Linked DNA regions of Homo sapiens: region 2 is linked to region 1. Evidence: fine-mapped QTL for protein levels in blood plasma. Region 1 holds a variant in brackets. A gene starts in the other region. All regions are shown on their forward strands.

Region 1 (12,862 bases):
TTTTATGTAAAAACCAAAGCTGTATACTTTTTAAATTAAATGTAACTTTAATATTTTGGTAGGACTACATTTCTCTTTTTAGCATTGCAAATCTAGCACCCAAATTGAGGTGGGCTGGCTGGGCACGGTGGCTCACGCCTGTAATCCCAGCATTCTGGGAGGCCGAAGCAGGCAGATCACTTGAGGTCAGGAGTTCGAGACCAGCCTGGCCAACATGGTGAAACCCCGTCTCTACTAAAAATAAAAAAAATAAAAAAATAGCCGGGCATGTTGGCACAGGCCTATAGTCCTGTCTACTAGGGAGGCTGAGGCAGGAGAATAGCTTGAATCTGGGAGGTGGAGGTTTCAGTGAGCCAAGATAGTGCCACTGCACTCCAGCCTAGGTGACAGAGTGAGACTATCTCTCAAAAAATAAAATTAAAATTAAAAAAAGCCACAAAAAAACAAATTGAGGTGTGCTCTAGTTGCAAAATACACACTGGATTTCAAAATACAAAATCCGAATATAGAAAAATATTGCAAAATATCTGACTAATAATGTTTAATATTGTTTACATTGGGTTATATATTGGGTTAAATAAAATATATTATTAAAATTGATTTCAGGCCAGGTGTGGTGGCTTACACCTGTAATCCCAGCACTTTGGGAGGCCAAAGCGGGCAGATCACAAGGTCAGGAGAAATAGGTGAAATCACATTTTTTTTTTTTTTGAGATGGAGTCTCACTCTGTCACCCAGGCTGGAGTGCAGTGGCATGATCTCGGCTCACTGCAACCTCCACCTCCTGGGTTCAAGTGATCCTCCTGCCTCAGCCTCCTGAGTAGCTGGGATTACAGGCATGCGCCACCACACCCAGCTAATTTTTTTTTTTTTTTTTGTATTTTTAGTAGAGACGGGATTTCACCATATTGGCCAGGCTGGTCTCCAACTCCTGACCTTGTGATCCACCTGCCTCAGCCTCTCAAAGTGCTGGGATTACAGGTGTGAGCTGCTGTGCCTGGCCAATTTCACCTATTTCTTTTTTTAATGCAGCTACTGAAAACTTAAACTTACATATGTGGTTTGCATTATATTTTTTTCTTTATTTTTATTTTTTTTAGAGACAGGGTCTCACGCTGTTACCCAGGCTGGAGGGCAGTGCATTGGCACCATCCGGCTCACTACAGCCTCAAACTCCTGAGCTCAGGCAATCCTCCCACCTCAGCCTCCTGAGTAGCTGGGACGATAGGCAGGTGCCACCATGCCCAGCTAATTTGTTTTATTTTTTGTAGAGATGGGGTCTTGCTGTGTTGCCTAGGCTGGTCTCGAACTCCTGGGCTCAAGTAATCCTCCTGTTTTGACCTCCCAAAGTGCTGGGATTACAGGTGTGACCCACTGTGCCCAGCCTTGCATTATATTTCTACTGGACAATGCTGAGCTAGACAGAGAGGAGGGTAGTGACAAAATGGAAGCAGTGTTTGCAGATGAACAGTCTTACATTAGTGTGCAAGATGGATTTGGTTACAGAGGAAACTAGAGAGAGGGAGTCCAGATTACCAACCTACAGGATTGGTGGGACACACATGCAAATTTGAGCAATTTGCCATTAATCCTCCAGTTTAACCCAGCCAGTCAAGCCCACCACCAACCCCTTTAACCTAGTTTTTCTTTACACCTGGGAATTACAATTTAGGATTGCCAACATGGACAAATCATCTACAGCCTCTATAGCCAGGCCTCGGGATCCCAGCCTCTCACTCTCATAGTTTATTCTTCTCCCTTGACTCCATTCTTAGTTCCTCTGGCCTTTAGCCTGACACTGATCTTACCACTTCTTCCTTAGCGGTTCTCTGGACAGTCCAAGGCTCGATGCATCGAGAGCCTCCTCCGAGCGATCCACTTTCCCCAGCCACTGTCAGATGATATTCGGGCTGCTCCCATCTCCTGCCATGTCCAGGTTGCACATGAGAAGGAACAGGTATCCTGCCCACTGCTGGTCATTCAACAAATACTTTTTGAGTACTTTCAGTGTGTCAGGAAGTTTGTTCGGCACTGGGTTTACAAAGCTCAGTGGCACTCTGCTCACAAGGACCTCCACATTCATGGGGTCTTTGGACTGGGTTTTGAAGGATGAATAGGAGTTTTCCTGGTCAAAGTGAAGGTTTCTTTCTGCTCTTAATCCACCTTGTTACCACCTTCTAATCTTAATAACATCCTATTTGCATCTAACCTAGTGGCTCCTGATTCCTGTATCAAATGCTTTAACTCCTCCAGGGTTCTGTTTTTTTTTTTTTTTTGAGAGAGAGTCTTGCTCTGTCACCCAGGCTGCTGGAGTGCAGTGGCGCGATCTCGGCTCACTGCAACCTCTGCCCCCGGGTTCAAGAGATTCTCTTGCTTCAGCCTCCCAAATAGCTGGGATTACAGGTGCCAGCCACCAATGCCTGGCTAATTTTTGTATTTTTAGTAGAGATGGGGTTTCGCCATATTGGCCAGGCTTGTCTCAAACTCCTGAACTTAAGTGATCTGCCCACCTCGGCCTCCCAAAGTGCTGGGATTACAGGCGTGAGCCACTGCGCCCGACCTTCCTCCGGGGTTCTTTCTCTGATGACCTCATTCCCTCAGGCTTCAGTGCCCACTGCCTCTTCCCCACAGGTGATACCCATCGCCTTGCTGAGCCTCCTATTCCGGTGCTCGATCACTGAGGCTCAGGCACACCTGGCTGCAGCTCCTTCTGTCTGTGAGGCTGTCAGGAGTGCTCTTGCTGGGCCAGGTCAGAAGCGCACTGCGGACCCCCTCGAGATCCTAGAGCCTGACGTTCAGTGAACCCATGTTTCTGGGTGGGTGAAAGGGGCCCAACCCTGCCCACTTCAGCCCAGCCCGCCCAAGGGGACTTGTGCCAGCAGAACATGTGGGAGGAAGAAGCCCCGTTTCCAGGGCATCCGCAGCCCAGGGTAGGGAGAAATATTCTCTCCACTTTGGGGGAGAGTTCTTGCTCTCGACCTAGTGGTTTCTACTCTCACCGACTTATTCTGATTTCAGAAATAAAATGAAATGTCTTATTTTGGAAAGTTAACCTTTCAAAGTCAGTAAATCAAACAGTAGATCAGAGGTGGGATAGGATGGGTGGCATGGGTTGGTCTTAACAGCAGATTTGTTTCTTTAATTCTGTCCCCAACTCCATTTCATTGGTCCCTAACACAAGCCTTATACTGGCATCCCTATATTTTCATTACCAACATGCAGCCACGTGTGCATGCGTGCACACACACTCCAATCCCACACAGACACACAATGAGAGGTGGGAACTTTTAGATAATTCCAGGGGAAGAGGGAAGAAGTTGTGTACCTAACATAGGAAACCCAGAAAAAGGGCAGTCTTAATCAGACATGACAAGATCTAGAATGACTGCTACATCCACGCATTAGACCATGAAATGAGGGTCACATCCCCTGCCCCGTGTTTGTAAGAGGAACATAAGGAACTCTGGAGGTGCTGAAAGCCCTTGGTGGTGGGACCCAACAAACACTAGAAACCCCGGGCTGTACATTTTAGACATCAGCTACCCCATGTTTTGACAAATCAAAGACACCCTTGTTCATCCTAGATTCATGCCAGCTCTTTAGGGCCTGTGATATATGGCCCTGACAGTAGAGAGCTGGTTCCTCCTTGTGCCTGAGAAATATCCAGGTAATAGATACTCAGGAACATTCCTCTGGGGATGAAACTCTCTGGAAAGGTCCCTGGAACTTTTAGGCAGGAGGGTGACTGCAAAGGAGCCAGATTTTGGTTTTATGAGGATAGAGTAATCAACCTTTTTAAGGTGGCCATAGGCCCCTCTGTGCATCTGAGGGCCTGCAGCCTCTATGTGAGCTCTGTTTTCCTGTTCCACATCTTCACACTGATGCCTTGGATGATCAGTAATCCCCCTTTCCCCAGCCACTACTCTCACGATGCTTCCTGAGTACCACCCCTTTCATCTTCCACAAACACCTCTCCCAAATTCAAGATGGCTAAAGTTAGGAAAGGCTCCTGCAAAGTCCCTCTGCTTCTCTTCACCCACAACTCTCTACCACGTTCTTTCATCGGGTCAGTTCATCTCTCAGCATGGTGTCATGAACAGTGTCAAGTCTGAGAAGATACCTAGCATTCTGGGACCCCAAAGGGCAGAGCACCCCTTGATCCTGTTGATGATGCCAACTGTACAGTAGCTCCCCTCCCACATTTGGAGGGGATAGGGCACAGGGTTAGATTTCTCCAGGGCTGGATGCAGAAGAACTCTAGAAGCCCTGAGTTCTTTTAGTTGCCAAGTACGTGGATGGCATGAAGACATCAAGTGAATTCAATTCTTATGTAGTTGGACACAATATTCAGGTATTATGAATATTGTGGGACATTATTGTGGGACATTATGAATATTGTGGGATAGCCTTGGGGGACATTAGAAGCTAGACACACTCTGGCATTGTGGCAGAGATGAAGATGACTAAGATCTGATGCCTACCCCCTAGAAACTCACAAGCACATAGCAATTAGAATACAAGACAGAGTTGAAGTGGATTAAACAGCGGGATAAGTACAGAGAGCTGCTGAAATTACAGGGTAGGCCAAGAGTCAAGGAAAGTTTTGGAAGAAAGGAGGCTGGGGTGGGGTAAAGGAACAGCCAAAGAAAACGCAAGAAGGTTTGAAGATTCACACTGGGATATGGATCTGATAGCAGAGAATCTGGTCATTGTCAATGGGATTTGTGCTCCAGGCAGAGCTAAAGAAGTTCAAAGATTTTTTTAGAACTATCCAGACACAAATGATAGGGTGACAACTTTTGCAGTTATTTGGAGAAAGTAAACATCTGAGGGCAAAAACAGCAAGAGAATAATCCATTATTAATACAAGGCAGTAATTATGTAGAAAGGACTAAAGGGCCTGGGCCTGAAGACTGGATTAGATTGTGGAAGATGAAGAAAACAATTTCCCAGCACATATATTTGCTGGATCAAAAGCAAAAGGGGGCTAGGTGTGCCATCCTAGCTACTTGAGAGGCTGAGATGGGAGGATCACTTGAGTCCAGGAGTTCAAGGCCAGGCTGGGCCACATTACAAGACCCTGGCTCTAAAACAGAAAAAAAAAACAAGAGGGGGTGGGACAAAATATATTTGGATATCGCACATACTCTAAGCCTGACGTTATACACACACACACACACACACACACACACACACACACACACACACATATATATGGAATATATAATATATATCCATATATATATATGGAACTCATGAACTCGTCTCCAAAATCTAGCTAGCTATTCTTTTCATAATTTAGATGGTCTCTCTCTCTTTTTTTTTTTTTTTAAGGAAAGTGTCTCACTATGTTGTCCAGGCTGCAGTGCAGTGGTGCGGTCATAGCTCACTGCAGCCTCGAACTCCTTGGCTCAAGCAATCTTCCTGCCTCAGCCTCCCGAGTAGCTAGGACTACAAATGTGCACCACCACACCTGGCTCATTTTTA[AT/A]TTTTTTTTTGTAGAGATGGGGCCCTGCTATGTTGCTCAGGCTGGTCTTGATTCCTGGCCTCCAGTGATCTTACTGCTTTAGCCACCCAAAGTGCTGGGATCGTGTGTGTGAACCACCACACCTGGCCAACATTCGTCCGGTCTAACATTCAGATTGTTTTGAATGTTACACAGCCTGGAGCCAGCTCTTGAATATTAGATAAGCTATAACGTTGAAAGAGGATGTTGGGACCAGGTAGGAGACAGAGGGGTCTCCATCTGGTTCCAGGGATGGGCTCTACAAATACAGCAAAATGCCTAAGATCCAATGGAAACTTAGGGTTGGACCCAATTGGACAGGTGAGTCAAATCCTAGGGTTGAGAGGACAGGTACTATATCTAGGTGATGCAAAATGCTCCCATCCTGGGAGAGAGAAGTGGGTCATTTTTAAGCTAGTAACTGGGGTGCTGTGGAAAAGACAAGGAAAAAGACAGGAAGAGGATCCCTGGAGCATCTTGTAGTCACAGAAAGTAAAGAATTGCTCAAAACCTCCACAAGGATGACAATATGTCAAAGGGATACAAGAGCCAATGTGAAAGAGCTCCTAGTGCCTAAAGTGGGAACAATTTGAGCAACAAAATAAGTAACAAGCTGGTCATGGTGGTAGGCGACAGCAGTCCCAGCTACTTGGGAAGCGAGGTGGGAGGATCGATTTCTTAAGCCCAGGAGGTTGAGGCTGCAGTGAGCTGTCATCATGCCACTGCACTCCAGCCTGGGTGACAGAATGAGACCCTGTCTCAAATAAATAAATAAAATTAAAAAAAACACTTGGTTTAAAAAAATACATGAGTACGCGTGAATTCGTACCGTTATAAGCAAATGATTGAATAAATAAAGTGGGGGAAAGTACCAATTTTTCCTAAAGAAGAATTCTAAATAAACACACACGCGCGCGCACACACACACACACACACACACACACACTCCTTTAGGAAATGGAGCTTAATCATCCCACACCACCTCTCCTCCAATGTGGGTTAGATTTAGGGGCTCACTTACAAAAAAACAGAGTATGGGAAAGGGAATGGGTTTTACGGTGGAGAAACCAGGCAAGCACTACCCTAATCAAGTAATCAAGATGGGCATCACCAGCAGGTATCACGCACCTCCTGATATGATATCATGAGAAAGGCATGTCACCTCTGTGGTATTCTTCCCCCAAACACATAACCTCAGTCTAAGCATAAAGAAAACATCACAGTAACCCAGCTTTAGGGACATATTATAAAATACCTGCTCATATTACAAAATACCTGAAAATTTTCAGTCATGGAAAACAAGAAAAGACTGAGAAACTGTCATAGACCAGAAGAGACTCAGGAAGCATGACTCACCTACAGGGTGCTACCCTCGGTTGGATCCTGGAAAGATAAAGGACTTTAGTGGCAAAACTGGTGAAACTGCATGAAATCTGGAGTTTAGTTAATAGTAAATATACCAATGTTAATCTCATAGTTTTGACAAACGTACCAAACTTATGTAAGATGTTAATGTTAGGTGAAACTAGGTGAAATATATATGGGAATTTGCTGTACTATCTTTGTAACTTTTCTGTAAACCTGAAATTTTTCAAAAATAAAAAGTTTATTCAAAAAATAAATTTAAACTGAAAGCCTTTCCTCTTAGATCTGGAACGTGACAAAGATCCCCACTTTCACCACTGATATTCAACACAGTACTGGAAGTCCTAGCTAGAGCAATCGGACAAGACAAAGAAATAAAGGGCATCCAAACTGGAAAGGAAGAAGTCAAATTATCCTTATTTGAAGGAGATGTGATTTTTTTTTTTTTTTGAGACAGAGTCTTGCTCTGTTGCCCAGGCTGGAGTGCAGTGGTGTGATCTCGGCTCACTGTAACCTCCGCCTCCCGGGTCCAGTCGTTTCTTCTGCCTCAGCCTCCTGAGTAGCTGGGATTATAGGTGCACACCACCATGCCTGGCTAATTTTTTGTTTTTTTGTTTTTTTGTTTTTTTTTTTAGTAGAGACGGGGTTTCACCATGTTGGTCAGGCTGGTCTTGAACTCCTGACCTTGTGATCCACCTGCCTCAGCCTCCCAAAGTGTTGGGATTACAGGCTTGAGCCACTGCACCTGTCAAGATCTCTACAATGAAAGCTATAAAACACTGATGAGAGAAATTGAAGATGGCACAGAAAAATGGAAAGATATTCTATAATCATGGATTGGAAGAATCAATGTTAAAATGTCCGTAGTACCCAAAGCAATCTACAGCTTCAATGCAATCTCTATCAAAATATCAATGACATTCTTCACAGAGATAGCAAAAACATCCTAAAATTTATATGGAACCACAAAAGACCTAGAATAACCAAAGCTATCCTGAGCAAAAAGAACAAAACTAGAGGAATCCATTACCTAACTTCAAATTACATTACAGAGTTATAGTAACGAAAACAGCATGGTACTGGCATAAAAACAGATACATAGACCAATGTAACCGAATAGAGAACTCAAAAACAAATTCACACACCTGCAGTGAACTCGTTTTTGACAAAGGTACCAAGAACATACATTGGGGAAAAGACAGTTTCTATAATAAATGATGCTGGGAAAATTGGATCTCTGATATGGTTTGGTTCTGTGTCGCCACCCAAATCTCATGTTGAATTATAATTCCCAATGTTGTGGGAGGGGCCGGGTGGGAGGTGACTGGATCATGGGGGTGGAGTTCCCCCATTCTGTTTTCATGATAGTGAGTGAGTTCTCACAAGATCTTATGGTTTAAAAGTGTGTGGCACTCTCCCCTTTGTGCTCTCTCTCTTTCCTGCTGCTATGTGAAGAAGATGTTGGCTTCCGCTTCACCTTCCACCATGATTGTAGGTTTCCTAAGGCCTCCCAGTCATGTTTCCTGTTAAGCCTGTGAAACTGTGAGTCAATTAAACCTCCTTTATTCATAAATTACCCAGTCTCAGGTAGTATATCCATATGCAGAAGAATGAAACTAGACCCGTATCTCTTGCCATATACAAAAATCAAATCAAAATGGATTAGAGACTTAAATCTCAAACTATGAAACTACTATCAGAAAACACTGGGAGAAACTCTCTAGGACATTACCCTGGGCAAAAGTTTCTTGAGTAATTCTCTACGAGCACAGGCAACCAAAGCAAAAATGGAAAAATGGGATCACATTAAGTTAAAAAGCTTTTGCACAGCAAAGGAAATAATCAACAAAGTGAAGAGACAATCCACAGGATAGGAGAAAATTTTTACAACTACCCATATGACAAGGGATTAATAACTATATATATGTATATATATATATATGGAGCTCAGCTCTATAGGAAGAAATCTAATAATCCAATTTAAAAATTGGCAAAAGATGTGAATAGCCGGCCAGGTGCGGTGGCTCATGCCTGTAATCCCAGCACTTTGGGAGGCCAAGGCGGGCGAATCACGAGGTCAGGAGTTCGAGACCAGCCTGGCCAACATGGTGAAACCCTGTCTCTACTAAAAATACAAAAATTAGCTGGGCATGGTGGCACGTGCCTGTAATCCCAGCTACTAGGGAGGCTAAAGCAGGAGAATTGCTTGAACTGGGACCCAGCAGGTGGAGGTTACAGAGAGCTGAGATTGCACCATTGCACTCCAGCCTGGGCTACACAGCGAGACTCCGTCTCAAAAAAAAAAAAAAAAGAAAAAAAAAGAAAAAGAAAAAAAAAGATTTGAATAGACATTTCTCAAAAGAAGACATGCAAATGGCAACCAATCATATGAAAAAGTACTCAACATCACTGATCATCAGAGAAATGCAAGTCAAAACTACAATGAGATATTATCTCACTCCAATTAAAATGGCTTTTATCCAAAAGACAAGCAGCAACAAATGCTGGAGAGAATGTGTAGAAAAGGGAACACTTGTATACTGTTGGAATGTAAATTAGTACAACCATTACGGAGAACAATACCACTGCTGGATATAAAGACAAAAGAAAGGAAATCAGTATATTAAAGAGATATCTGCACTCCCATGTTTGTTGCAGCACTGTTCACAATAGCCAAAATTTGGAAGCAACCTAAGTGTCCATCAACAGATGAATGGATAAAGAAAATGTGGTACATATACACAATGGAGTACTATTCATCCATAAAAAGAATAAGATTCTGTCATTTGCAACAACATGGATAGAACTTATTTCACTTATTATGTTAAGTGAAATAAACCAGGCACAGAAAGACAAATGTTGCATGTTCTCACTTATTTGTGGGATCTAAAAATCAAAACAGGCTGAGCATGGTGGCTCACCTGTAATCCCAGCACTTTGGGAGGCTGAGGCAGGTGGATCACCTGAGGTTAGGAGTTCAAGACCAGCCTGGGCAACATGGCAAAACCCCTTCTCTACTAAAAATACAAAAATCAGCTGGGTGTGGTGGCAGGCACCTATAATCTCAGCTACTTGGGAGGCTGAGGCAGGAGAATGGCTTGAACCTGGGAGGCAGAGGTTGCAGTAAGCCGATATCGTGCCATTGCACAGCAGCCTGGGTGACAGAGCAAGACTCCGTCTCAAACAAACAAACAAACAAATAATTGAACTTATGGAGATAGAGAATAGAAGGATGGTTACCAGAGGCTGAGAAGGGTAGTGGAGGGGTAGTGGTGGGGAGGTGGGAATTGTTAATGGGTACCAAAAAAAATAGAATGAATAAGGGTGGGCACAGTGGCAAATGCATGTAATCCCAGCACTTTTGGAGGCTGAGGCGGGAGGATAATTTGAGCCAGGAGTTCAAGACCAGCATGGTTAACATAGCGAGAGCCCATCTCTACAAAAAATAAAAGAAAAATTAGCTAAGCATGGTGGTATATGCCTGTAGTCCCAGCTACTAAGGAGGCTGAAGCAGGAGGATCCCTTCAGCCTGGGAAGTTGAGGCTGCAGTGAGCCATGATTGCATCACTGCACTCCAGCTTAGGTGACAGAGCAGTATCCTGTCTCAAAAAAAAAAAAAAAAAAAAGAATAAGGCACAGTATTTAATAGCACAACAGGGAGACTAAAGTCAATAATCAGTTAATTGTACATTTAAAAATAATTAAGAGTGTAATTGGATTCTTTGTAACACAGAGGATAAATGCTTGAGGGGATGAATACACAATTTTCCATGATGTGATTATTCTGCACTGCATGTGATATGGTTTGGATCTGTGTCCTCACCCAAATCTCATGTTGGATTGTAATCCCCAGTGTTGGGGATGGGGCCTGGTGGGAGGTGATTGGATCATGGGGGTGGAGTGCTCATGAATGGTTTAGTACTATACCCCTTGGTATAGTGAATGACTTCTCAAAAGAGCTGGTTGTTTACAAGTGTGTGGGACCTCATTCTCTATTTCTTCTGCTTCGGCTGTGTGAAATGAGCCTGCTTCCCTTTCCCCTTCTGCCATGAGTGTAAGTTTCCTGAGGCCTCCCCAGCAGCTGCTGTGCTTCCTGTACAGCCTGCAGAACAGTGAGCCAGTTAAATTTCTTTTCTTCATAAATTACCCAGTCTCAGATATTTCTTTATAGCAATGCAAGAATGGACTAATACTAATCATAGTATCATAATTGTGTTATGGAATATGTATTATGATCTAAAAATAAAAACATGTATTATGGAATACAGTATCATAATACAAATATCTCATGTATTTCATAATATATATTATGTACCCACAAACACTAAAAATTAAATTTTTTAAAAAATTAAAAATAAATATATAAAGTTAAAATTCCTAACTACAATAACATATATTTGGGAAGGGATAAATTGAGTTAAAATATTCTAAGGGCCTTGATTTTTCCATAAAGAAGATAAAAGTTTTTATTAATTTAAGGCTTTGATAAGCTGTGTGCATATTGCATTTTAAAAGGTATCTGCTAAAAACAGGGTTGGCAAACTTTTTCTGTAGAGATAGATAGTAAATATTTTAGTCTTTGCAGGCCCTGTGGTCTCAGTCATTACTGTTCAACTCTGCTGTTGCAAGCTTGAAAACAGCCGTAGACAATATGTAAAATGAGTGTGGCTGTGTTCCAATAAATCTTCATTTGCAAAAACAGGCAGCATGCTGGATTTGGCCCACAGGCCATAGTTTGCCAAGCCTTGCACTAAAAGAATAAAAACAGTATAATTTCTAATTAGTAAAGGGGGAAAATGAAGTAATTAAAAATAGTCATCTAATTGAAAGGCAAGAAAAGAGAGAAAAAGACTGCGCCAGGTGGCTCACATGTAATCCCAGCACTTTGGGAGGCTGAGGCAGGTGGATCACCTGAGGTCAGGAGTTTGAAACCAGCCTGGCCAAGATGGCGAAATACTGTCTCTACTAAAAATATAAAAATTAGCTGGGCGTGGTAGCATACATCTGTAGACCCAGCTACTTTGGAGGCTGAGAAAGGAGAATCGCTTGAACCTGGGAGGCGGAGGTTGCAGTGAGCCAAGATCACACCACTGCACTCCAAAGTGGGCAACAGAGTGAGACTCTGTCTCAAAAAAAAAAAAAAAAAAAAAAGGAGAGAAAAAGAAACTTAAAATATAGGACAAAACAGGAAGTACTAAGAGGACAGATCATGGCCCAAATACTTTGGTAATTACATTAAAGGTAAATGAAATACATGCCCCAATTAACACTTTTTTTGTTATAGATGTGTCTCTTGCAAACAGCATATATATGGATTTTGTTTATTTTGTAGCCAGTATTAAAGCAAAGGCATATAGAAAGGTTGATAGTAAAAGAATGGGAAAAGATATACTGTGAAATACCAACCAAAAGAAAATAGCTATGGCAATTGTCATGCCAGAACCCTATTGACTTCAGTAGGGATAGCATCATGTTGCAGAGGCTAGAGAAGAGACCTGGAGCTAGCAAAGAAGACATTGGGCTTATTGAGGGAAATTACATACAGGGCAGTCCACTGGTGGTGGGCTAAACAGGAGAACCAAACTGCTTATAAAAAGCATGCAGTTTATATAGTATTTTCACTTAGCACCCTCCTCCTAGCAACCTCCTCCTGGCAACTTTCATTTAACTCAAAACAAAAGGCTTCAGTCCCCTGTATGTCCTGCATGTCACAGGCCATGCCGGGGGTTCAGATGTTCATTATACATAAGGAATAAATAAATCTCCAGATTGGCCACTTCTGGATTCCTTAGCTTGGAAATCCAAACACACATTCTTCTTAGAACACAGGGTCATTCTCAGGCTATGCTTAAGTTAAGTTGATACTGTCAGATGTATCTGCCATACAGGGTCATTCTTAGGGGTATGCTTAAGTTATGCTATCAGGTCCATCTACCGTACAGCAATATTAATATCAGACAAAATAACTTAAGGCCAAAAGTATTACTAGAA
Region 2 (12,548 bases), not on the chromosome of region 1:
GACCAGTCGTAGATACAGCTGTTCTTCTCTGGGCAGTTCCACCCCCATATCTGAGGGAGCTGGATTTCACATCAGGAAGAACCCTGACCACCATCTCAGTAGAGACCTCCACATCAGTAGAGAATATATATCAGCATCAGTTAGAAGCACATCAAACCAGGGTGAGGCCAAAATGATTACCCCCTCCTTTACATCTCTCCCCTTTCCCAATCCTGAGGCTGAGAAGTGTGATAGAAAGACATCTCAGAACTAGACTATCCCCACCCTTCTCTAAGGTGCTGGTGCCAGAGGAGCAGGGAAAGAGTCTCTAACCGTCACCCCTCCCAGCACTCCCACTACAATCTAGCCAACAATAGCGGAGCAGGATGCTTTAAAACAGACATGATATTGGAGCTTGAAACGGGACTGCAGTGACCTTTAATAATCTAAATAATCGGCCAGCCGCGGTGGCTCACGCCTGTAATCCCAGCACTTTGGGAGGCCGAGGCAGTGGATCACGAGGTCAGGAGACTGAGACCATCCTGGCCCACATGGTGAAACCCCGTCTTTACTAAAAGTACAAAAATTAGCTGGGCGTGGTGGCAGGCGCCTGTAGTCCCAGCTACTTAGGAGGCTGAGGCACAAGAATCGCTAGAACCCAGGAGGCGGAGGTTGCAGTGAGCCGAGATTGTGCCACTGCACTCAAGCCTGGCAACAGGGCGAGACTTCATCTCAAAAAAAATAAAATAAATAAAATAAAATAAAATAAAATAAAATGGGGAGACTAGTTAGATGGCTACCGCAGTACCCCAGATGAGAAATGATGTAGCCAGGAGCATGAGGGTGTAAATGAGAGGAAGTCAATGGATTAGAGATGAACTTTGGAAGTTCACATCCAGCGGATTGAATGTGGGGGTAAAGTGAAGGGAAGCATCAACACATTCCCCTAACTGGTGTGAGGAACAGAGAGAATGGCCATGTCATTAACTGAAATGGAGAAACCTGGAGTGTGAAGAGTTCTGACGGGAAAACCCGAGTTCATTTTGGGACACGTTAAGTTTGAGATATCTGGAAGCCAGCTATGTAGATATGTCAAGTAGCCAGTTGGATGTACAAGCATGGAGCTCAGAAATGAGTTTTGCAGGGGGAGATATAATTTTAAAAGCCATCCACATATAAGTACTATTTAGACTTGTGAAAGAGAGCATAGAGAAATAAAGAATGGGGGCCCAGAGCCAAGTCTGAAGAACACAGAGTTTGGGGAGATAAAAAAAGTCCCAGCTAAGGAAATAAAGGAGAATTGAGGTAGAGGGTAATATTATGCTACTTAGAGCTGATGAAGGAAAGAGTAGTATTATGAAGCCAAGAGACCAAATATATCAGGAAGGAAGGGGAAGGCAACTGCGTTGAATGTTGCTCACAGAGCTACTGATATGAGAAAAGAGAGATGTTCATTGTTTTTGGCAGCATGGAGGTCAGTGGTGACAAAGGTATTTTGCTGAAGTTGTGGGGACAGAAACCAGGCTGGAGTGGGTTAACATATGATCAGAAGTGAAGAATCAGAAGGTGTGTAGATGGGCAATACTTTCAACAAGTTTGACTTATTAAGAGGAAGAAGACAATGTGCAAGAGTGAAGAGTAATGTGGGTTGAAGTGTAGGTTTTCAATGGGATAATCTAATTCAGAAAGCAACTACTGAGTGCCTGGACCCTGCTAGGCATTAAGCATGCAGTGATGAACAAGATATGGTGCCTGTTCTCAAACAAGTCAGACATTTCCCCAAGCATAAGGGCTCACCTGGCCATTTAAACCAAGTGCTGGAGATCCACGAAGAAGAAAGGGGTCTCCACTGCTGAACCTCTTGGCCTTGTTCAGTGTATCACAGGTTCTGAAGTCAGACAAACCAGCCTGCAGTCCTGGCTCTGCACCTGTTACATATGTGACCTTGGAGAAGGTCCTAAACACAAACCTCTCTAAACCTCAGTTTATCCAGCTGAGAACATCAAAGCCTTCTCTGCAGCTTAAATCAGATAAAGTATTTAAACTGTAGGGCACAGTCTTGCAATTGCAATTAAAAATGGCAGCTATTCTAATTACTATTTGCTGACTTCCCATACCCCAGCAAAATTTGGATTGCCACCAGTGTGTGCTTCTGTTGAGGCTCTTACTAAACTGTGTTGTCTATCTACATATCTCACTTCCCCTTTAGGACAGGAAGTAGAATTTTATTTGAACTAAAAGCCAACGAAATGCCGGCCAGGTGCAGTGGTTCAGGCCTACATTTTCAGACCCTTGGCCAGTTGAGCCCATGAGTTAGCCCAGCCCGGCCAACATGGTGAACCCCCTTTTTTATTAAAAACCCAAAAATTAGCCAGGTGTGGTGGCCCATGCCTGTAATCCCAGCTGCTCGGAAGGGTGAGGTGAAAAAATCCCCTGAACCCGGGAGGCGGAGGTTGAGTAACCCGAGATCACCCCATTGCACTCCAGCTTGTTTGACAAAGGGAGATTTTGTCAAAAAAAAAAAAAAAAAAAAAAAAAAAAAAGAGAATAAAGATAAGGAAAACCAACAGGAGAGTCATTCCTTAGGTAAAATGAGCGGGACAAATTAAAAATTGAGTCAGGGGAGGCACGGGTGTTGATAAGAGATAAATCAGAGTCGGCCAGGCAGAGGGGCTCAGGCCTGTAATCCCAGCACTTTGGGAGGCCAAGGCAGCAGATCATTTGAGGCCAGGAGTTTGACACCAGCCTGGCCAACATGGCGAAACCCCATCTCTACTAAAAACACAAAAATTAGCCGGGCATGGTGGTGCGCACCTGTGGTCCCAGCTACTCCAGAGGCTGAGGTGTGATAATTGCTTGAACCCAGGAGGCAGAGTTTGCAGTGAGCTGAGATCGTGCCACTGCACTCCAGCTTGGGCAACAGAGAAAGACTCTGTCTCAAAAAAAAAAAAAAAAAAAGAAAGAAAGAAAGAAACCAGAGTCCAAGATAGCAGTTTCTAGGATAGAACTCCTAGGATTAGGCTTCTCTAAGCAATGTACCTTGTTTTTATTGAGACAGGGTCTCACTCTGTCATACAAGCTGGAGTACAATGGAGTGATCATAGCTTACTACAGCCTTGACCTCCTGGGCTCAAGCAGTACTCTAGCCTCAGCCTCCCAAGTAGCTGGGAATACAGGCACATGCCATCATGTCTGGCTAATTTTTTTGGTTTTTAGTAAAGATGAGGTTTCACTATGTTGCCTAGCTGGTCTTGAACTCCTGGGCTCAAGCGATCCTCCTGCCTCAGCTTCCCAAAAGGCTAGGATTACAGGCATAAGCCACCACACTCAGCCCACAATGTACCTTCTCCATAAGGAAAGAGCTCACTGGGGGACAAGGCCTAGAGGCAGAGAGTGGACAGGATGCAATGAATTGGGCAGTACAAAGTCTGTATACAGAGAGGCCTGGAAACTGCAACAAAATAAACTGTGAGGCCCTGAAGAAGAAGTGGGAATTTGGGGGTAGAAGTCCAATCTGAGATACAGAGGAGACTGATGGAAGACTGCCCAGGGCTGTGCCAGAGCCATGACTCCAGCCACTCAGAAGCCCAGGATGATGGTCAGTGCTTTGCCGGCTTAGGCTTACTCAGGAGGGGAAGCTGGGGCCGAAAATGACCAGAGAAGCTTGGCTTGGGTCATGTGAGGAGCCTGCATAGTTACAGGCCAGCTGGGAGTCCTTGGTCCCCCTCAGTCACAGGCTCATCTGCCATGGTGCTGTTTATCTTCCATATGGCCTCAGATGACCATTCTTCCCAGAAAGTCTGCCTCAATGTTCCCAGTTTCCACCAACAAATTCAATTTGACAAACATTTATTGAACACCTCTAGGTGCCCTATACCAGTTCCTGGGGACACAAAGCTCAGTGACCCTGTGTCCCTGTCTGGGGGGAGAAGTGTGTGGCTCACAGCCCAGTTTCCCTGAGAGCAGAGGAGCAGGAAGCTCAGTATTTCTTAGGCAGGCCGTCAGGTCTGAAGCGGTCGGGGTCTTTGCCACTCCGGCCCCATTCCTCAGCTTTCTCGTTGGACTTCGAGTCCTCCAATACAGTGCTGCTGTTTCCAAATAAATAGCAGTCTATTAATCCCTGAAGATAGACCCTGGAACGGCTGCAACCCAAAGAAAGGAGACAGGAGATTAATCTCTTGACTCACCTGCTCACCTGAGACAGCTCCACCTGCTAACTCCCTCCTCTTCTCCCACCCAAGTAATGACTGAGAGGAGGCTGGAAAACTCAAGGAAAGGGGAAGAAAACTATCAATCTTCTTGGGCAAAGGCCTAAGTCTACTGATACTTGCGCTCTGCAACAGAGTGCTTTCCCTTTTTTTTTTTTTTTTTTTTTTTTGAGACAGGGTCTCATTCTGTTGCCCAGGCTGGAGTGCAGTGGCTCAATCATGGGTCACTGCAGCCTCGACCTCCTGGGTTCAAGGGATCTCCCACTTCAGCCTCCTGAGTAGCTGGGACTACGGTGCATGCCACCACGCCTGGCTAATTTCTTTTATTTTCTGTAGAGATAAGAGTCTTGCTATGTTGCCTAGGCTGCTCTTAAATCCCTGGGCCCAAGAGATCCTCCCACCTTGTCCTCCCAAAGAGTTGGAATTACAGGTGTGAGCCCCTGCACCCAGCCCCTGCAACAGTGTGCTTTCAAGACCTCTCCTCAGTTCTTACTTTCCCTTGTGGGTGAAAGGAGACATGTCTTCACCAGCCTTGCTCTGGCTCTGCCAGCCACCCAGACCCCAGGAGTATGTGGAGGAGGGGAAAGAGCCACAGGTTCTCCTGACTCTCAAGACAGATAGGCACTGCTGGCCTCTCACTGGAGTCCCCGGGAATCTGTGTTACCTGATGAGTTTAGCAGCCCAGACACCCCCAGGTCCTCTTTGGGCAGCATCATAGTTTCCCCGAGCATAGAGATATCTGTTTGAATTTTGGTGATTGGATATCATTATGTCCCAATAGGCTCTGCCCATGTCCCCAACCCCTGGAAAGAAAAAAAATGACAAAAATGAACCCAGTGACATACTGGAGAAATGTAGAAATGAACATTTTCCACTGATTTCCAGATTTTGGCCCTTGACAAAATAATCCTTTGAAATCATACGTGGAGATAAACATTACTTCCTGTGAACAGCTTCCCTGAGTAACTGTAAGGAAGGTGCTTTTCCATGGATTACATTGAATTGTATTGGTTGGCAGTTGTCATGCCCTGGGCTACATCTTACATGGGTCTGTGTGTGCTGTGTACAAAGAGGGGACGCTCATGTGAGGAATGCTTTTCCATGGATTACATTGAATTGAATTGGTTGGCAGTTGTCATGCCCTGGGCTACATCTTACATGGGTCTGTGTGTACTGTGTACAAAGAGGGGATGCTCATGTGAGGAATGTCACAATGGAGAATAGTACTACAGATGTAAGATCCAGGGACATTACAAGGGACTTGGTGAGAAGAGGAGGGGGCTGCACATCTACCATAGCCCATAAGAAAAATACATCCTTACCAGCTGAGTGAGGACAACTAGGACTTGAATAAATCTGACTGCTATGGGCATAAATGGCACAAGAAAGCCGAGGGAATGGGCAGTACGTGATGAGGTGGAATGACCTGAGAGAGCTTCATAGGACCTGGATAATCAGACTTATCATGAAGGGCATGAATGTAAATGTTTAACTCTCTGCCCTGACAATTAAGTGTCAGTTTCCACATTCTTCAGTTGGGGGGAATCATACCTACCTCCCTGGTGGACTAAATGAGAAGATAAAATGAGGTAACATACATAAAATGCCTAGCATATTGGAATACTTGATGCAAATTGGATTCCTGTTCCTATTAGTGAAGGGCAGTAGTGACAATAAGATACCACTATACACCCAACAGAATGATAAAAATTTTTAAAACTGACAATATAAATTGTGGGCAAAAATGTGGAACAACTGGAACTCTCATAATTGTTTTGGGTTTTGTTTTTTGTTTTGTTTAGTCACAGTCTCCCTCTGTCACCCAGGCTGGAGTGCAGTGGTGTGATCATGGTTTTCTGCAGCCTTGATCTCCTGGGCTCAAGTGATCATCCCACCTCAGTCTCCTGAGTAGCTGGGACTACAGGCACCTAATAACACACCCAGCTAATTTTTTTTTTTTTTTTGGTAGAGATGGGGTCTCACTTTGTTGCTCGGGCTGGTCTCAAACTCCTGGCCTCAAGTGATCCTCCTGCCTTAGCCTCCCAAAGTGCTGGGATTACGAGTGTGAGTCATCATGCCCAGCTCTCGTAATTGTTCATGGAAGTGTAAATTGGTACAATTTTGGGAAGCTGTTTGCTGGTATCTACGAAAGCTAAATTGACATGACTATACCTTATGACTCTACATTTCCATTCCTGAGTGTATACCCACAACAGAAACGAGGGCTTATGTACACTAAAGTACATGTACACCAATGTTTATTACAGGTTTAGCCATGATAGCATAAAACTTTAAAAAGCCTAATTATCCAATAATGTAGGATAAATTGTGATATCAGTATACAATGGAATACTATGTAGCAATGAAAAAGAACAAAATATTAATACACATGACAAATGCTGTCATGTATATTAGTATGTCGTAATGTTGAGTGAAACAAAGCCGGATACAAAAGACATATTCTGTATGATTTCTTTTATTCAAAGATCAAACACAGGGACACTAATCAACAATGATAGAGGTAAGAATAGGAGTTACCTTTCGTGAGGGTTGTTAACTGGAAGAGGGCATGAGAGACCCATCCGGGGTGTGTGAAATGTTTGACATCTTGATCTGATGGTGTAATATGGATGTTTGTATGTGTAAAAACCTCATCAAGCTATACTGTGTACTATATGTAAGTTATATATCATTTTAAAGTTTTTAAAAAGATTAGTGGAAAAATAGATGTTTGAAACAGGTCTAAGCCAGGAAGAGCTATAGAAAATGTCTATCAGTGCCTGTGTTGTTCAATCAATAAATATTTTTGAGTTCTGCTGTGGTTTACGTGTTACCAAGTTCTTTAAACCAACTCACTTGGAAAAAAGAAAAGCTGTGATAAATAGTTTTAATTGTTACTTAGGTACTGTGTTCTAAGGGATATTTCTCACTAACTTCATGTATTATTTTGTGTCTGTAATTTTGTCAAATAGTTTATCTCTGGCATGGCATGACTGTCCTTTCTCTGATGCATGCTTTATGTTCATTCTATGTTTTCCAGATCTACTAGCAAGAGTTTTCTCCAAGCATCTGACAGATTCTGTCACTGGGTGACAGAAAAACCCAAGACAGTTGTTCTCATTGGCATTGTGCTTAAAGTAACCTGGGGAGTTTTTCAAATGCTATTCCTAGTCCCACTTCACTTCTAAGATTCTGACTCAGTAACTATGAGAAGAGGCTTCAGAGTGTACTTTTAAAACAAACACCGGCCGATTTAAATGCTGGTGGACCATACAACAAATTCTGAAATACACTGACCTAAGGGAAAAGATATTCTCTACTATGTGCAGAAAAACTTAGTACATGCTACCAAAACTTTTTAAAAACTATTTATAGAATATCATTTTTAAAAGCACAAAATGCAGAAAAAATGAAAATTTATAAAATTTCAATTGAAAAATTACAAAAAATTCAACTACAAAATTAATAACAACACATGAAGTTCAAAGTATTGCATAACCTGACAAACATAGTTTTCCCATTTTAACAGCTAGTCAATAAGATTCGTTTCCCATCCAGAATGGCAGAAGTCAGTTTCCCAGCCGTATCTCAGCCCTCCTGTGGCTAATCAGTAGAAATTTGCTCTTTTTATTTATGGATAGAAGTTAGGGCTTAATTTTCATAAGCTCTGCATCCCAAGCATTGGCCATTTGCTTGGGTACAGGATGGGATTTCTCTACTCTCTGCTAGGCATGTCTCAGTCTTGGAGTATAATTGTGAACTCAGTATATTCCCTGAGGTGGATGAGCTAAATAAACATCATGCCCTGAGAAATCTGCCATCTGTAAATTTCCGCAGTGGGAGATAACCCCCTGGAAGTTTTTATCCTTCTGCACTCTACACCAAGAGTACAGGCTGGGCCCAAAGCATCTTTAACCTCTCGTCTGGAAACCCCAAGGGAGGGTGATAAATCAGACCAGCCTAGAGGAAGAAACAGATACAGAAAACCACACTCCTGCTCTGACCTCTGTGTGGCTTCTCTAAGGAGCACTCACATCCAGTGAGTATGTGGCCCCTGCTCAGAATGAATCCTGGGTATGTGCCCTCCATCCTCCAGAGTTCTTACCTTGGAGAGCCTCCTTGAAAAACGAACGCCAGCTTTCACTGGTGACTCCCATGACCAAGGAGCAGAAAACAATGCCTGTGAAAAGCCTCATTGTGCTGAAGAGAAAGAAAGACAGGGGCAGAGGATCATAAAAAAAAACACAGATCTATGTTTTGAGGACTGAATTTCTTTCCTTTTTTTCTTTCTTTTTTTCCTTTTCTTTCTTTCTCCTTCCTTTCTTTCTTTCCTCCCTTTCTTTCTTTCTTTTTTTTTTCCTATTGCCCAGGCTAAAGTGCAATGATATGATTAAGGCTTACTGCAGCCTCGACCTTCTGGGCTCAAGTGATCCTCCCACCTCAGCCTCCTGAGTATTAAGGACTACAAACGTGCACCATCACACTCAGCTAATTTTTTTTTTTTTTTTTTTGGTAGAGACAAGGTCTTGGTATGTATGTTCGGCCCAGGCTAGTCTCGAACTCCTGGCCTCAAGCAATCTTCCTACCTCAACCTCCCAAAGGATTACAGGCATGAGCCACTGTGCCAGCCAAAGGACTGAATTTGAAAGACTAATTCCCCATTTCCATTTGTTTGTATGAGAATCATAACTGCATGAAAGATTGAAACGGGTTTTAAGAAGAAGCATAAACCCTTAATTCTCAGCCCAGATCTCTAGAAAGAATAAGAGGATTCCAACGTGTTATTTGGTCTGTGGTCAATTTGTCACCCAATACAGCAGACTAAAGTCAATCAAGAAGCATTTCCTGAGTTCCTACTCTCCTCAGCACTGACCCCGTAATGAGGTAGAAAACACAGTTTCTCTCCAATTGAAATTTGACAATTATGTGAGAAAAGGATCTCAAAAGAGTCAAATAAGAGAAATTACTCCTTGGAAGAAACCTCACCTGTGGACCTTTCTCCAGATGAAATTTCAGTAAAGGCAGAGCTGCTGGTATCTTCTGGCCGTGGAGCTATAGTTGGTACCTCTGCTGGCTTTGGCATTAATGGGAGAACGGTTTTAAATCCAACAACCTGCCTTGCCAAAGTCCTTTTTGCTCAATTCTTTGGGTATTTTAAAAATTAACATATTGGGTAATAGTGTTTCCTTATCTAGAAGTAGTTTTCCAAATTGGGTCATCAAGGTATTTATTTTCTGGCAGTTTTTCTTAATTGCCACTTTTCCCTCTTTTTAGTTTCCTGTATCACAGAAGAGTTGTATTTGCAAAATCCAGTGTGGGAAGACAGAGGTCTTTCTCCACTTTCTTCTCTTTGTGTCTTTCCATTCTTAACTGTTTAGTAGGAGGTCTTCCCAAAAAATTGCACATAGATATTATGCTGTAGGAAGTGATCAATATTATTAGCAAAAGAGATGTTTGCTTGTCTCTTGTGACTTCTCTCTAAAGAATGTAAGGACACAGAACAAGCAAGACTTGACTGTACCATTCATGGGATGAGGTAATGATTCTGGGAGAATACAAGGACAGGAATAACACCAGAAGATCAAGGGTGAAGGCCTTTGAGGCATAAAAACTCTTTTTTCATATAAATATGTATTATTCTGCACTTTCTTTTAAACTTACTATTTATTGGAAGTCTTTCCATGTCGGGCTTGTTGCTTTTTTTTTTTTTTTTTTTACAGCTACACAGTATTCCATTGCATGGATGGACCATAATTTATACAATATTAATGGCTGTTTTGACAGTTATTAACCTTTTGATATTACAAATAATGGTGCATTTATTAACCTTGTACATATGTCTCTTGCACATGTACAAATATATCTCTAGGATAAATTCCTACAGAAGAAACTCCATGGTGAAAAAGTATCAGATTTTATAAATTTTTTGTTTGTTTGTTTGAGACAGAGTCTCACTCTGTCCCCCAGGCTGGAGTGCAGTGGCATGATCTCAGCTCACTGCAACCTCCACCTCCGGGGTTCAAGAGATTCCCCTGCCTCGGCCTCTTGAGTAGCTGGGATTATAGGCACATGCCACCACATCAGGCTAATTTTTCTATTTTTAAGAGAGACGGGATTTCGCCATGTTGGCCAGGCTAGTCTCGACCCACTTACCTCAAATGATCTGCCCACCTCGGCTTCCCAAAGTGCTAGGATTACAGGCATGAGCCAACGTCCCTGGCCCTAGATTTTATAAATTTTTATATGTTGCAAATTGCCTTCCATGAGGGCTGTATCAATCTCTACTCCCACCAGAAATGAGTGAAAGAACTTGGTTCCACATTGTCTCTCACACAGTATACTCTCAAACTTTTTGGTCTTTGAAATTGTGAGTAAAATAAAACTCAAAGTAATTTTAATTTACATTTCTCTTATTATGATTTTGGTTTCACATCTTTCCACATGTTTAAGAGCTATTTCTATTTTCTAGGAATTGTGAATTCATACCTTCATATCAAAGTAGTCATTTTTTACTGGTTTATTGTGTTTTTATTTATCACATTAGAGAAACTTTTTATATACAGGGAAAATGAGTATGTTATCTAGGATATGAGTTACAAATATTTTTCCCAGCTTATTTATCTTCTGATTATGATGGCTTATGTTCTGCCAAAGAAATTATTTATGTTCTTGTCTTTATTAATATTTTCTTTAGTTGTCTTCTCAATTTCATAGTATTTGAAGAGCTTTCCCTACTTTGTTTTTTTGTGGTTTTCTTAAACTCAAATGTTTTTATTTCATTCCTTTTTAAAAATTTTTTGTGGGTACATAGTAGGTGTATATAATTATGGGGTACATGAGATATTTTGGTACAGCCATGCAATGCGCAATAATCACATCATGGAAAATTGGGTATCCATCCCCTCAAGCATTTATCCTTTGTGTTACAAATAATCCAATTATACTCTTTTGGTTATTTTACAATGTACAGCTAAATTATTACTGACTATAGTCCCCCGTTGTGCTATCAAATACTAGCTCTTATTCATTCTAAGTATTTTTTTGGTACTCATTAACCATCCTCACCTCCCCTCACTCCCCCCCTCCCCACTACCCTTCCCAGCCTCTGGTAACCATCCTTCTATTCTCTATCTCCATGAATTCAATTGTTTTGATTTTTAGATCCCACAAATAAGTGAGAACATGTGATGTTTGTCTTTCTGTTCCTGAATGATTTCACTTAGCATAATGACCTCCAGTTCCATCCTTGTTGTTGCAGCTTTCCCTACTTTGGGCTATAAAAGAATTTTCCATGGATTCACCAGATAATGTTAATATTATTATTATCATTTTCCTTATTTGTTTATAAATATTTAGCATATTTGGAATTTGTCCTACCGTAATATATACAGTATGTTTTCAACATGATGTTATTTTAGATGGTCACCCAGTTGTACCAATCCCATTTGTTGAATAGTCCGTCTTTTACTTAATACGTTAACATACAACCTTTATCACATACAAAATTCTCATATGCACTTATGTCTAATTCTGAGGATTTGGTTCCACTGATCAGGTTTTTTCTATATATAAGTCAGTACTACACTGTTGTACTTATTGAGGCTTTCTTCAATGTATTAATTGCCCTCATTACTTTTTTTTCAGAAGTAGTTGGAGTTCATTTTCTATTATTTCTTCTAACTGCTAGTTTTTGTATCCACACCTTCTTGTCTGTGGTGTTTTGATTGATGTCTGGGGTGTCCAGGAGTCCTATCATACCATCTCCCATTCTCTCTTATCACTGCTCCATTTAGTTCTCCAGACCTTCTCCTGCAACCACCTTCACGAGATAGTCAATGACTCCATGTTGCTTAAGCCAAAGGTGAACTCCTCAACTGCTAAGCAGAATCTGATACTACTAATCAATATCTCCATCAGGGATTCTGGAACACCATGCTTTCCTAGTTTTCCTCCTTTCCCAACAGCTGCTCCTTCTCAGTCTGTTTTGCTGTATCCAGCTTCTCCTCCAAACTTCTTAGAGAATGGAGACACCACACTGAGCCTTCAGACCTCTCTTCAGTCTCCATCCACATGCTGAGGGAGCTCATCCATGCCTCTTAGCACAGGTTCCAAAGGCCATGGTCTTGTTAGTGGTGGTTATTTACACTGAATCTTCATTGCCTGGATCAATGCCTGGGTCATGTAGGAGTGAAGAAAAAAGGCTTCTTCCTTCACTCTCTACAGTTCAGCTGAAAATAAACTGACAAAGGCAGATTAATAGGAGAAAAAGTCATATACACGTATTTTAACATGCAAGGGGGAAAATCACAGGAGGGTGATTTCCCAATAACCCAATGGGGTACCGGTGATTATATACTATTC

Direction of the effects. Positions count from the first base shown, and alleles are read on the strand shown. Strength reflects both the effect of a copy and how common the allele is.
With allele A in place of AT in region 1, the plasma level of the protein whose gene starts at base 9,259 in region 2 is lower (weak association).

What was found. A credible set is the group of variants that fine-mapping cannot tell apart. PIP is the chance, under the fine-mapping model, that this variant and not a neighbour inherited with it causes the effect. The UK Biobank Pharma Proteomics Project read protein levels with antibody pairs (Olink). The fine-mapping took linkage between variants from a reference panel, not from the people measured, so its PIPs are less certain.
Region 2: SAA4 starts here. The variant in region 1 is the best candidate, but not a certain one, in a credible set for the plasma level of the SAA4 protein (UK Biobank, PIP 0.51).

Annotation. Positions count from the first base shown.
Region 1 is chr2:27,520,638-27,533,499 of GRCh38, forward strand. It overlaps GCKR (glucokinase regulator), which reads left to right. Exons shown (of 19, transcript NM_001486.4): 18 at 1,823-1,957; 19 at 2,632-3,047. The coding sequence ends at 2,802. Among named protein-coding and RNA genes, the nearest start is that of SPATA31H1, 10 kb to the right of the region's middle. The variant AT/A (reference allele first, on the strand shown) is at 5,488.
Region 2 is chr11:18,227,544-18,240,091 of GRCh38, forward strand. It overlaps SAA4 (serum amyloid A4, constitutive), which reads right to left and starts at 9,259. Exons shown (of 4, transcript NM_006512.4): 1 at 9,174-9,259; 2 at 8,293-8,387; 3 at 4,852-4,990; 4 at 3,812-4,121. The coding sequence starts at 8,383. The coding sequence ends at 3,959. It overlaps SAA2-SAA4 (SAA2-SAA4 readthrough), which reads right to left. Exons shown (of 6, transcript NM_001199744.2): 4 at 8,293-8,387; 5 at 4,852-4,990; 6 at 3,812-4,121. The coding sequence ends at 3,959. It also overlaps a transcript of SAA2 not described here. RefSeq lists a silencer at 1,838-1,887.